Linked DNA regions of Homo sapiens. The protein of the gene in region 2 interacts with the protein of the main gene of each other region in a pairwise test. Each region holds a gene or a part of one and is shown on either strand. Other genes may lie near its edges. The genes, in order: ATF7IP and CDH11.

Region 1 (3,828 bases), on a different chromosome or scaffold from region 2:
CATGACTGACTAATTGATTCACCAATTGATTAAAGCTAGAGATATGTGTGAGGCACAGATGCTAAGCATTTTATATATCTAATCATATTTAACCCTCACAACACTACCATGTAGGTGGTAACACCACATTTTAAAGATAAAGAACACTGAGAGGAGACACTAATTGCCCAGGTCCCAATACAAAACTACTGTTCTTTCCACTTCACTGTATAACTAACTGATTTTAGGAAAATTTTTTGTTTTTTCTTTTGTTCTTCTTTTCTTTCTTCATTTTTTTATTTATTTTTATCTTTCAATGTTTAAATCATTTAAAGTAAGTTTGGTGGGGGAAGAGGATTATACAAACCTAAAATACAAAATAATTATATCATTCCATCTTTTCCTCAAACCCTTATTAATTTACATACGTAGGTTCTTCACAGTCATATTTTAGAAACTTTTTATTAACAAGCAACTGGTTCTTAATGGATGACATTGAAAACTGTTTTTCCTAAAAGCAACTATTTATTATTTTTCATATGTAAAGTGCCTGTCAAATCTTCCCATGACAATTCATCATGTGGGTATTTGCCATCTGAGTAAATTACATGTTTGATTAAAAAAAAAAAGTTCTGACATCTGTGGATAATGAGTTAAATAAAAGAAAATAATTAGAATATCTTATTCCCTTTTTTTTTTCACCTCCACCTAAAACGAAGGAATTCTATTCTTTCAATAAGCAAGTATTTATTGAATATTAAGGGAGGCATGGTGGAAAGCAAGGCATGGTGGAAAGCAATCTTACACTTTTAATAGTGGTCTTATCATACCTTATTAGAAAGGATTTGTCTTAAAAAATTGTCAGATATATCAATAAGATATGATTCCTAACCCCAGGAAACTTATAAAGTACTACACAAAAAACAAATAACTATAAATATAAAAGTGGAAAGGAATAAATGCCTTTAAAAAATATATGAAGTAAAGCAAAGAAAAATTAGAGAATTTCCAGTTGAGAGCAACAACATGCTTTAATAGGCATACTATGTGGGTGCCATGGCAACTATGACTTTTATTCACAAAAACCAAGGATTTGTATCACAGAGCTATTAAGAGTTCTCCTAACACACTACCTTCCTTTCTGGCTCTAAGATTTTGAACATACTATTTATTCTCTTTACTAGTATTATCTGTCTAATTCATTCCTTAAAATACAACTCCCATAAAATCTCCTTGATCTCCTTCCAACACTCTCACCACTTTCTGTACCCTACAAAAATATATATTGTTTTACTTGTCATATTCTGTAGAAAGCTACTTTTAACTACTTACTTATTAATCAGGTAAGTTTTGCCTATATGCAGAGAATTTACAACCACAATCTTTTTACCTGTGTATATTACAAGGCCCTTGGAAGTCACATTTTCGGCCAGGCACAGTGGCTCACACCTGTAATCCCAACATTTTGGGAGGCCAAGAGGGGAGGATTGCTTGAGCCCAGGAGTTCAAGACCAGCCTGGGCAACAAGGCAAGACCCCCATCTCCACAAAAAAAAAAAAAAAAAAAAATTACAAAATTAGCTGGGTTTGGTGGCATGTGCCTGTAGTCCAAGCTACCTAGGAGGCTGAGTCAGGAGGATCCCTTGAGCCCAGGAGGTCAAGGTTACAGTGAGCCATGATCACACCACTGCACTCCAGCTGGAGTGACAGAGTGAGACCCTAGTCTCAATTAAAAAAAAAAAAAGTCATATTTTCCATCATGGAAAATGTATATTTTATACATACAGTTATAAACAGAGAAAAAAAAATCTGGATAAAATAATGCAAACATAAACTATTCAAACAATTGTCACTCGATTCATCTACAGTCCTTTTGAATTAAGCAAGTTAACCTGTAAAGTTCAAAAATACTACACTGAGTTTTAAAAATTTGAAATTCTAATTCTTGCAAAACTAATCATAATGTTTTCAACGGCAAGCAGAGAGGGGAAGAATTCTATCAAATATAAATATTTATAATAACTGGGACCCCAACCACAAATCATGAACACAAAACCCCCAAAATACCATTTCAATGGAAAATATACAGTTATACTATAACTGAACCTAAATCTTAAAAGAGAAATAGTTTTCAGTACCAAATTATGAAGTACTTTGAGACCACTTCTCCCAATTCCTTATATAGCAGAAAATGCTATTCATTAATATCCATTTCTCTTTTATAAAATTCTCTAGTTTTAGCTAAGCATATGATTATCCAGCTAGATATATTTCCCAGACTTCCTTTCCCAGCTAAATATGTCCCAATGACTAAATGATCACACATAAACCATGAGTCAAAGTGCTATGTGCCACTTCCATATCATGCTCTCAAAAGAAAGAATATGCACTCCCATTGTTCTTTCTTCCTTGCCTCTAGCTAGTAAAACTAGAGAGTAATCATGTTTCACCTAGTGATGGAAGCCATATGTTAAGGCAAAACCACTTACAAACTCTAAACAGTCTTACTTTGTATGGTTACATGAGAAAAAAACATGTGTCATCTTTAAACAACAGGAATGGAGTCTCCTATACTGTGGCAGCTTAGTTTTTACTCTAATGGAATTCACTTCTGACATTTACCACCTAAAAGGAAATAAAAGAGTTCAAAAGCAGTCTCTCTTTTCCCTTACATGCTTTTTCCTATGACATTCTATCTAATAAGAGTAACAGGGCAGATATACATCTAAGGCTCCAAAGCCTTAGCTGGGAATAAGCTGCAGCAGTCAAGTCATCCTTTATTGTTCCATCAAACTCTTTCTCCTGGTCCTCAAAACAGCAGATTCCCTTTCCATCTTTTTAGCTTTATCCTTCTACAAAATGGTAGGCATTATCACTGAGAATTACTGAACCAAAGAAAGTTCCTTTTACAGCTTTGACAGTTCTGAGGACAACTATTCTAACATACAAATCAAATTTCTTATTAGAATGTTAAATTATTAGAATGCCAAGAGTGATGGACACATAATTTCTAGGTATCAAACCAGATAATACTTCCCCAAAGTAGCATAGGGCTATACAAACAACAAAGAAAGGGAGAACGGATCATATATAGTAAGACATTATGGCATTACTACCTCACATCACCATCATACAAAGGGGTCCTCTCTCCCAAATACAGCTAGTTACTACCAGTTATTGGATATAAAAGAACACAAAATGTTTCTTATAATATTCTGAGCAATGGAAAACTGCAGACATGAATAAGTGCATATTTCTGATGGCAAAGTTAATAAGTCATCTTCATTTCCCAGATTCTCATATTCATATAGGTCCAACTATAAAGACTCTCAGGAAGGTATAACTGTTCCCTTAGGCCTATGGTATTTTTTTTTTTTTTTTGAAAAGTGGCTGAGGTACCTGAGTCATCCTCTTAAAGATTCTAAACTCCAAATGATCGAAATTTAAAATTGAAACATTCACACCATATAAACAAGCACTAGTAGCCCTGATCTACTTATTCTTAACTGAAAGTGCTCCCCAGCACTCACTCTCTGTCTCCAATACAAAATGGTTTCCACCATGCAAGCTGAATCATCTATAAAAAGTTTAATTTTCTTTGTTTTCAACAAATTAAAATGCCTGGAGGAGCCCCTGATTTACTCTGTGGATGGCAGGACAATCTGAGAAAGAACATGGCAAAGTAATGTTTAAATACTCTTGGCCTCTCTAATAAAATATAAGGTCAAACAAGCAAGAAGTTTAAAAGAGAGTTCCACTAAAGGATAGGCAATTTCTAAGTACTCTAGGAAAGTGACAAGGACTATGGTCTCTGAAGCTAATTAATGACATTAAGGTAATCTGTTTAAAT
Region 2 (3,828 bases):
AGGCTGAGAAAACCCTCTCGGTTTTAATTATTGTATCACTTCACTGTCCTGTTAAATTGTGAACTCCCTGTGGTCAAGACTCTGCCTCTTCAACTTTAGATTTCCAGCCTCTGGCAAAGGGCCTGCCTGACAAATAGTAAGAACTCAATAACTCTTGGTGGAAAAATGGGTGAATAAATTAGGAAATAAATAAAAACACTAAGTTAAAAAATACTTTAAAATGCAGAAATATTGCCATAATGTCTCTATAGACTTTTACAGTATTAAATTGCATGGAATGACTTTCACAAGGAGTCATATTTTTACTCTGTTAAATTCATCTATAATTTTTCTTTTTTTTCCCCCGGTGGACATTTGGAACTTTGTGCTAGAAGTTTGAGCAAATGTTCTTTTACAAATGCAATAACATCTTACACTATTTAAAACCTAAGCATCAGTGCTTTATAGAAGATTATTCCTTTGCCTAGAATAAACACACTGAATTGGAGGCAAATGTGCAAATTAATCATATGCAGAGAGCTCATTTGCGACGTGTGAGTTCCATGGGGGTGATTTAAATGTTTCAGGATTTCAGAGATACAGTGTGTGTTTATGCCCTGAATACACTAAAAACAGGTGACAACCTTAGCATAACCAACTACCCAATTACATGAACAGCAAAGGATGGGAGGCAGGAATTGCTGATGTCAATGTTCATATGTCAGTGTCAAGCAGAAGAGATAGTAATATTAATTAACGAAGTAAGTTGACAGCTCTAGGCAACACACAATTCACACAGCTACTTTTCCAGAGGAGAAACCAGAATTAGTGACTGCCCTAGCTCCCTGTGGTTGATAATTAGGCTTCCTCGGTCCTACCATTCATCCATTAATGTAGACTTTTCCAAGTATCCAAATTTCACCCCAATTTCCATATCCTTCATTTTCTTTCTTTTTTTATAACAATCACCCCCTACCTTTTCTTTGTTTTGTGCTCTATAATATTTTCCCCAACCCCAACATACTTTAAAAGTCTGTGAAAGGTCAGTTTCTTAGCACAGGTCACTCCTTGCTCCCCCACCTGAAAGATTCCTTTCAGGACCTGTCTTCCCCCACTGGTCCTTCCCTCCTCTTTAGCTACTGGCCTCTTTATTGATGCTTCAAATTAATTTTCTATCAGTGTTAGAGTCCAGTCTTTTCCATCGCACCAAGGAGTTTAATATTCATGCTATAAAACTAAGTTGAAAATGAACGCTTGATTAAAACCAAGGTAATCCCATCTTCCAATTCCGATTTAATGCTCCATACACTTTCATGATGGAGAGGTGTTGATTTCTCAAGTGGTAAATCACGGGGGGAAACCTTTTTAGAATGTACGGGAATTATTTCTTCACTTGGAAGTGAATCTTATCTGGCTCTTCTTTACAAACGCTTTCCAGGCCAGCTGTTTTCAAAATGTCTTGAGAGGGAAGTTGTTCTAGAATAACTAAGGTGTGAATTCCAGGTCGGCATGCCTGAGCTATATGACAGTGACTGGGTCAAATGATTTCATCTGTCTGAGCCCCAATCTCCTCAAAATTAAGTTGAGGTCTCTTTGCCCATTGGGATAACACTACCTACTTCATACTTTTGTTTGTTTTTGTGAAAAGTAAATGAAATGATGTTTGTAAGAGGATGGTGCTGTGTCTGGCCAGTAGTCAGTATTGAGCGCATGTAAAAAAGAAGAAACACTAAACTTCTCTTTGTAATAAATTAATTCCAGATACATGTTTTTGGAGACTGACTATGAGGGGAGGTCCACAGGCTCTTTGACTAGGGGAGAAGGTCCATTATTGTTGCTTCTCCAGGTTCACTTGAGATAAAAACAAGTAGAGAAGGCTTCAGTTTCACAGAGGGTCCAGCAATGCAGTGAATCTTGAATGTTGAAACAGTAAGAGTTCTGAACAGCTTATCTAACAGATTCAGTGTGGCAGAGCTAAGGGGGGAATTCCATGCATGCTCAGGGCTGCTTCTTCAAAATCTAGATTTATCTCATTGTCCTTCCCTCCATGGGAGAACTGTGCTTCCCTCCATCGGAAAACATTTAAGAACTAACTAGCAATCTCAGGCAGGTATCACCAGCCCCTTTGTCAGCTTCTCTGCAGTAACAGAAAGGAATACAATTCTGTGATCTTCCAGAGCTCAGAGCTCAACTACAAAGTCAGGTCAGCCCCTGGTTTCGCAAATTCTCATTTCTTAACCGTCGCCTCCCTGTTTCTTGCAGTGTTGCCTTGGCAGAGCAGGCCATACCACTGACACGTCTGATTCCTTACCCTAACTCACCTTTTTCAGCTTTATCACCCCCTCCTGTGTTTCATAGTCCGTTGTGATTTCAAACGATTCCATACCATCTCCATCAACAATATTGTATGTGACTAAGCCATTTTCTCCAATGTCTGGATCTTTAGCTTTCACTCTTCCTACTTCCTCCCCAGGGACGGCTGCTTCTGACACAGACATCTGGTATACGCCTAGAAGAAGAAGACATCTATTTTTATTTTCTCTTTTATTTGGCAGCTGTAAGACTATAGATTTCATTGAATCCCAATAAATTTCTCAAAGGATTTGAAATTGAACTTTCTATTGACTGAAAACATGAAAGAAGTGAGTGGATGTGGGGAGGAGGATCCCACATGGCCTGCTTGTCAAAAGAATGTGTTCTACGAAGGGTGATAAAACAATATCTGGGTCCAGGTGAAATGCTGGGGTCACCTGCCACATGTAAGGGAGAAAAACAATGCTCTGTTACATTTCCCATCAGGTAATGATGGAGAACCATGCATGTCTTCATTTAGCAAAATAGCTGAAGCTTCTTTTCATGTCTTCAGGATGGTCCATGAGTTAACTCCAAGGCTCACTTATGGTATTGCGAAGAGCCCAGAAAAAAAAAATTCTCTGTTTAAAAGCCTTCCTTCAACAGCTCCATAGTTACTTTAAAAATGCAAACTTTAACATCCCTCCCTGTCTAACTCTATATTCGACACTCCCCTTATTTCACCTCCTTCGCAACTTGCCTGCTTCACAAGTTGGTCATGCGTTACCTTCTCCAGAAGGCTTTCCTGCAGTGTGACCCTCCTATATATTTATTTAATGTTTATTGGGAGCCTAATACTGTACATGGAGGTACTGTCCTAGTGCCAGGACACTGTTTTGTTTGCTTGTTTTGTTTACTACTAAACAAAACAGTCAAGATTCCTCTCTTAATGAGGCCGACTAAAGAGAAAAAATAAAAACAAATGTAAACACACTCTGATGTCACTGCAATGAAAAAGGAAAATAAAGTAGGGTAAAAGGGTGAGGGTTCTGAGAGTGGGTGTGTGGTTGTGGGTGTGTAAGTGCATGATTGTGTGTGAGGGTGAGGGGGTAAATGTGTGAGTGGCCATGAGTGATTGTGTGGGCATGAATCTGTTGTGTAAGAGTGTGAGTGTGTGTATGAATGTGAGCTATTTGTGAGTGAGTTTGTGTATGTGTATGAGTGTGATTGAACACGCATGCTTGTGTTAATAATGTGTGGGTGATAAGCAGAAAGAGGGAGAGATTGGTTTTGCGTAGTGTGGTAGGAGAAGACATTCTTTAGAAAAAGGAATCTAAAATGACTGAGGAAGACAATGACGTGCATATCTGCAGGATAAAAACTACCAGCCAGGTGATTAGCAAATGGCAAAAACCCTAAGGTGAGAAGATCCTGAATACTTGCAGAGGAGCAAGAGGAGGAGAGTGACTACAGCCTTCTGGTGAGAGAGAAGGGCTGTAAGGAAGTGGAGGCCAAATTGCGTAAAATAGACCATTGTGGGGAATGGAAAAGACTTCA

The links.
Region 1: the proteins of CDH11 (region 2) and ATF7IP interact in a two-hybrid assay, tested with the Homo sapiens proteins (one large-scale study listed by IntAct).

The regions. Positions count from the first base shown.
Region 1 is NC_000012.12:14,371,992-14,375,819, reverse strand, and holds part of ATF7IP (activating transcription factor 7-interacting protein 1), read right to left. Parts: intron 1-3,828. UniProt on the Homo sapiens protein: Recruiter that couples transcriptional factors to general transcription apparatus and thereby modulates transcription regulation and chromatin formation. Can both act as an activator or a repressor depending on the context.
Region 2 is NC_000016.10:64,985,857-64,989,684, forward strand, and holds part of CDH11 (cadherin-11 isoform 1 preproprotein), read right to left. Parts: intron 2,489-3,828; coding exon 2,301-2,488; intron 1-2,300. UniProt on the Homo sapiens protein: Cadherins are calcium-dependent cell adhesion proteins. They preferentially interact with themselves in a homophilic manner in connecting cells; cadherins may thus contribute to the sorting of heterogeneous cell types.